2 linked regions of the Homo sapiens genome follow. The protein of the gene in region 2 purifies or fractionates together with the protein of the main gene of each other region. This does not show direct contact. Each region holds a gene or a part of one and is shown on either strand. Other genes may lie near its edges.

Region 1 (3,657 bases), on a different chromosome or scaffold from region 2:
CTTAGTGGCAAAATAGGACACAGAACACTGTCTTGGCTTTAGAAAGCCTAAGAATCAATTGCCAAAGCTTAAGAGAAATTCTTAGAAAATAATGGCATAAACTAAAAAGAGAGATCTTAAAAACTAGCAAAAATAGCATGTGCATGTCCAAAGGAGAAAATAAACAGTTGATTAAATTTCTTCCACCAATAAACCTCCCCAGAGACAGAGAAATTAAATTTTCAACAGTGCTGCTGGCTTGGCAGGAGCTGTGGGGGGTTGGGTGGGGCAGGGAGCTCTTAGGTTTTCCCTTCTGGAAAAGACTAGGAACCAAAATGCCAAAGCACCATGAGCAGGGGCAGCTCACCTGAAGCCAAACCCTAGCACATGCAGATACAGTTAGGAAAGCAGCTGCCAGACTGAGACAGCAAAGGTCCAAACAATTGCTGAGTTTTGGGCAGCAATTAGGAGAGAGAAGAGAATAAGAGCATCATGGAACATAGAAGAAAAGCAATCTGACAATTTGAGATGTTGAGTGTCTTTTAATGTTCAATGTGTTCAATGTTTCTCAGCTCCCAGTGGAAAATTCTTAAGATAGATATTACCAGACTTCTCTATCTGTCATGGCAACTTTATAAATCCAGTGATGTAAATCCTGGGAATGGTCCCATTTAGTCACTCTTTCCAGCTGCTGTCACCACACACTGAAAGGGAGCTTCGTCCTGAGTCAGACTCCATGGATGAAACATTCAGCATCACATGTAACCTATTGTTCTTCACAACACCCTACTCCACTACCTGCTAAGAGATGTTCTACATGGTACACAAACCCTGCACTCGAGTCTCAGGCCCACAGCTGTCTCCTCAGACCTACCTCCGCGGGGTGCAGTCATCATGCGGGGGAATGATGACAACCTTCACCGTGACAGATGTTCTCAGGAGGTCGATCATCTGCTCATGGCTCAGAGTGGCTACCGCCACCTTGCAGATCTCCACCAGGCGACTGCCCTGCCTCAGCCCTGCCTGCCAGGCATAACCGTAGGGCTCCACATCCGCCACAATGCCCTCATAGTTGACATGGAAGCCAAGCTGTCCTAGCCCATTTCTTCGCAGAGTCATCTCCACCGATTCACAGCCTTTTGAAACAAACTAGACAAGGAAATAAAAGATACTGTGGTTTAAAGCAATAGGGTATTAAGTGGTGGACATGGAACTGGAAAATCATTGCAAGCAGGGTTAGTTCTGAATACCTTATTGCCAGCTGAAGAGCAGTCTGGTTATTTCCTCTTCACTAATCTCCTATTCATTAGGCCAAAAGGAATATACTTGTTGCATCCAAAAAGCTCAACGGCTTCCCTGAAGTTACAAGGAAACCTCTACCAGAGACCTACAGGGAGCTGGCAGTAAATAGAAACCATATACTGCTACTCATTTAGCCTTTGTAAAATTCAAGGCAGCAGATACTCAAGCAATTCTTTTCAACACCACCACCAGATGACTGGACTGCAGCACCAGGGAACAGGTCACATGCAAATGGGTTTTGAACATGAACGCACACACACACACACACACACACACACACACACACACACACAGAGTAAATGTGTCTTCCCCAATTTGTTCTACTTTTCCGAAACATCCATGGAAAACACAAGCATGAGATAAACTCTGTTTGCTTCACACATCAAGGGAGTTTTCAGAGGAGCTAATAACAGAGCACAAGGTTCAGTAACTTGGCTCTAGTCTGTATTGAAAACTTTATGAAAGAGAAACTGCATGTAAGGAAGAGGAAGGAGAGACTCACCTGCAACCTTTTGACAATCTCTTTGATCTCCTCAATGTTAATAAAACTACCCACTGAAACACATTCTCCTCGTTCATAGAAGATTTTGAGGCTGGTGTCAGTTGAAGTCCACCCTATCACATCTCTACAGGAACAATTGAAGACCACGCTCTTTGTTTCCTGTTCAATGAGCACAATGAACTCATTGGAGATCCCTAAAAGGCAGTCTAGTTCCATGGCCTTGTTGTAGTCTTCAGCCCGGACTGCCCATACAATGGCCCCCATGCTGCTGAGCTCGGCTCCTGGATATGGCTTAGACTTTTCCTTCTTCTTGGAAGCCAGAGAGATGAACGGAAACTTGCCAGAAGGGTCGATAGGGGTGTTGGTGACATTCTTTTCTGCCAGATCTTTCAGGTATTCCTGGCGGGTCCGAGTTGCCATGGCCCGAAACTTCTCCGATTTATGAGCAGCATTTTCTGCATTAATCACTTTCGCCAAAAGGAAGTCCCTGAACACATTTGACTTAGGGAAAGTGACCCCTTTAGGAATGGGAGGCCCAAAGGAAGGCACATCTCTGGACCTGGTAACAGCCACACTGAGAGACAAAGATCAAAGAGAGCCACGTCAGTATTTCTCAGTCTCACAACATCAGAATAAAATATACTTTCTCAAAGACAAAGATGTACCTCAGATACAAAATAGCTGCTTATTTTTCCATGAGAAACAACACACATTTCTGCTTAATACGAGTATATTTTTTCATTCTACCGCATTTAGGATTTACACAACATAATTTTTTTTCTAGGCCAAAAACAAACCTCCCAAAATCCCAAAAGCTAACACTATTAACTTTTTTTTTACCAGACAGGAAACTGACCAAAACTCCATGAAAAAAAATAGGTTTACTGTAATATTCTGTGTAAGACATTTTAAATACCTACTAACTGTTTTCAAGGGAGGTTACTGTAACCACATCATCTTTCAGAACAAGCATACATTCTGTGAGAACACAAATGTGTTCTCCATTTTAGATATGATGGCTATAAGCAGACAGCTTACATTGAAAATATCAGAAGATGCATGCCATAAAAGAAATGAATTAAATTTCAATAAAACTTAACTAGTATTTGTTGGCCTAAGTGTGAGGCATTATGCAACCAGATTAAAAGCATAATTTTAAAATGAAAATTGGAATCTGAGTAATAGTATGAGAATCTTTATGTAATAGCAACAACGCTTTAAAATCATATTTTTAAACTGAGCTATTCCTTGGTCCTTTTGGTATTTTATTCTGATAATCTATTTCTAAGAAAAATATTTTCCTTCTCCCATTCCTTTAAGCAAGATTGATATAAGAAAGCCTGTTCCAGTCATTTCTTCTGACTATATATTCCTAAAATTGGGCCTAAGAAAAGGATCATATGAACATTTGTAATAACTTATTATTTTTAACCTCAAAAGGAAAAAAAGTAAGTTTCTCCTAAAACAACAAAGGAAGTTGTTGATATAGAAATAGAGAGGTTGAGTGTTTTATATCATTTCCCAAGATTTTAGTAAAGTTTGACATGACTGGAAATGATTCTAACACATCGAAGATCGCTCTTTCCAAATTAAAAGTGAACAAATTATGCAATTATACTTAGTATTAGGGAAACAATAAAAAAATCGGTTTCTTCTGAACTCTTGGAATAGAAATGGCATCATCAGAGAGTATGCATCTTTCAAATAAAATTGAAGAGCTCTGTTTCACTTTTTTTTCTTTAGGAAGGGTTTGCTTTAAGATATTCAGCTTTGTTTTTCAAGAAATAGTTATTTCTTGTGAAAATAAGAAAAATAAAAATCAGCAACCTCAGGAGGCAAATTATATTTCTGGTGGAATGGAAAAGCTACATGCT
Region 2 (2,706 bases):
AATATTGGGCTTTTCCTGGCTGGGGGTTCCTAAACCATGCAGAGGCTAAGCTAACGTGGAATTCTCAAGCATAACCAACACCCAGACAATAGCCTACAGGAGACTCCACACAGGTATTTCTGTACTTCTTCCAATTTAAAGCTCCATGGTCTCGAATATGGATTGTTTTCAGAAATGGTAAAAAGAAAAAAATGTTATGTATTAGCAAAGAGAGCCTCTTTGGGGACTACTCCTATCGTATCACATACTCAGAGTGGGAGATGTAGTTGGAAATGTTATGCCCTTACTCTCTATTCCCCACAACCCCATTTGTCCACATGCGAGGTGGCACATTCTTGTCTTGGGCTAGAGAAGAGTGACTAAAGTTTTTTCAGAGCTTTCCCTGCACCAACAATAGCCTTGTTGACTACCTTAGAAAGGGGAAAAAAATCAACTTAAAGTTTATTTGCACCTTAAAAGTTCATGATAAAAATGCAAATACAGTAACAAAAACATCCTCACCCAATCTATAATTTTAAGTAATTTATTTCAATAGAAATATTTCAGAAAACTGTACTTAAATTCATCTTAAGTTAGCTTATGCAGACACACTGAAGATCGCACACTCACATTTGCATATTAAAAAGAAACAAAAAGTGAGAGAGGAACCAAGCTGCACATCACTCAAGGAGGTCATAGTGCAATCGAGTGCTTCATCATTAGAGTACCTCAAGTTAATTGGGATAAAGAATAAAAATGGCTTGTGTTTTCAGATATATTATCATCACTGGGTACCTGTCCTTACAGATGTTTGATCTCCTTCAGATTATGTTGTGAACCAGTTCCCCACCCCCTCCCCACACACATGTTCTTTAGTAGGATGTAAAACAATGAATTTGTCAATAATCAAGGTACAGAAACTCTTGAGAGTCTGACTTATTATCAGCTATTTTACCATACCTATTAAGTCAGTAATTATTGGACTATATATGTGAGTAGTTCTAGTAGGTCATATCTTCAGGGGAAACAATATTTGTTATCTGGTATCTAAAGCACAGCTATTATTTATGAAGTTTCTGCTTTTCTATTAAGAAAAAAAAGAGCCCAATCCCAAAACACTGTAATTATGTATTCTTTTAATCCCATAATCACTTCTGTAGTACAAATGGCCAGGGTCAAAATTTAAATTTTGCTAACACTCCTCAAGGACCAGTTAACTCTTTCATTTGGCTTGAATGACTACTTGCCTACTCTGGAACATACTAGCCCTTTAAAAAAATGTGAAAAGAACATCTTGATTCAGGTTAACATCCAGTAGCTCTAGGTCTTCCAATAATCTGAGAGAAGCAAAATATTTCCAACTTTGCTTTCACTGAAAAAACTAGCTTAGTCTCTTAACTTTCCTTTAACTTATATATTAGAGATATTTTTACTTTCTTGTATATTTTCAAGAAAATAATAACTGGCAGGTTAAGTGACTACTTGTTTGTTTTGAGTGTTACTTAAATGTAAAAATAAATGGAAATAAATCTCATTTCTGGCCAAAGGGATTTTCATTACAAGATTTCAGTACATTTAACAAAACTCAAATATTTCTGGTTGTATCTTATTCTTTTAGGGCTTTTCCAAAAGGCCTTACAATTAAATGTATGCTCAAAACATCAACAACAAAATAAAAATGAACTTGGCTGAAGAGTGCTCTTCAAATTTGTTTTTAAGAGTGCTTATCTAAAGGTTGACTGGGGTGGGTTTATTTTTAATCTCCTACTCTAAAAGGATAGAAGCAGGGTAGGAGCTTGTTTAAAAAGACTCAAAAACCAAGGAAGACTGCAACAATCACCTACAGAGGTTTCTGTAAAGACTTTGTTAGACTTGGGGTGAGAAAGATTAAGCTGGTGGAGAGAGGGATAGCACACACTCCTGAAATAAGAGGAGCAAGAGGGCACATGATTATTGTCATACTTGATGCCCTAAAATTGCTCTTCAAATAATAAGGCACTGACCAAATTTTCTCCCCACTATAACCTGAAACATAGGTGTAATCAAATTGCTTTCAATAAGCAAAAGAGTTTTTATGCCTGGATCTCTTTCATTAGAACCCTCCAAATAGGGAAAAAAATGTCACTTTAGACACAAGCCATTTTTAGGGGAGCAAAATCAAAGGTACTTAAATCATTTTGAGAAGGTTCACATGGAAAGTAATTCATCATCAATGTGATTAAATAGCAATATTTGTATCTCAAAGCTTAGAAAAAACAGAATACCACTTTGGCTGTAAAATCATATATTTACTATGTTTGAAAGAAATAATACAAAAAAGAGAGGAAAATAAAAGCAAACCCTAAAAGGTCACTAAAGAAGTCATACCAACCTCATCACTTGCTTTGTATCATCTATTCATGCAACAGCAGTACTATTACTCCACCTGGACACAGTTAAACTCATCTTCCTTTTCAAAAAGGGATCCAATTATTTCAAAAACCTTTGAAGCAGAGGATTTGCTTTATTAAAGATTATCTTCTGTTAGGCAACACTGGCACCCCTTGTTTGCAGAAGATGATTACGTGGTGGTTTAAACACTGGTTGTAAAGGAATGTGCCTCAAAAAAACAGGAAGGAAATCAATACCAGATCTATTCATTTAAAAAGCTAATGGATGGAACCCATTACTATTGATTTTCAATTAGTATGATGCCCTATAGTTTTGTTTTCAGTAGTAAAGGTATAC

The links. Proteins that work in one complex are often made in the same cells at the same time.
Region 1: the proteins of RALGPS2 (region 2) and SIPA1L1 purify together in Homo sapiens (affinity purification with mass spectrometry, with the first as the bait; one large-scale study listed by BioGRID). This does not show direct contact.

The regions. Positions count from the first base shown.
Region 1 is NC_000014.9:71,669,819-71,673,475, reverse strand, and holds part of SIPA1L1 (signal-induced proliferation-associated 1-like protein 1), read right to left. Parts: intron 2,358-3,657; coding exon 1,784-2,357; intron 1,129-1,783; coding exon 854-1,128; intron 1-853.
Region 2 is NC_000001.11:178,919,644-178,922,349, reverse strand, and holds the end of RALGPS2 (ras-specific guanine nucleotide-releasing factor RalGPS2), read right to left. Parts: 3' UTR 510-2,706; downstream 1-509. UniProt on the Homo sapiens protein: Guanine nucleotide exchange factor for the small GTPase RALA. May be involved in cytoskeletal organization. May also be involved in the stimulation of transcription in a Ras-independent fashion.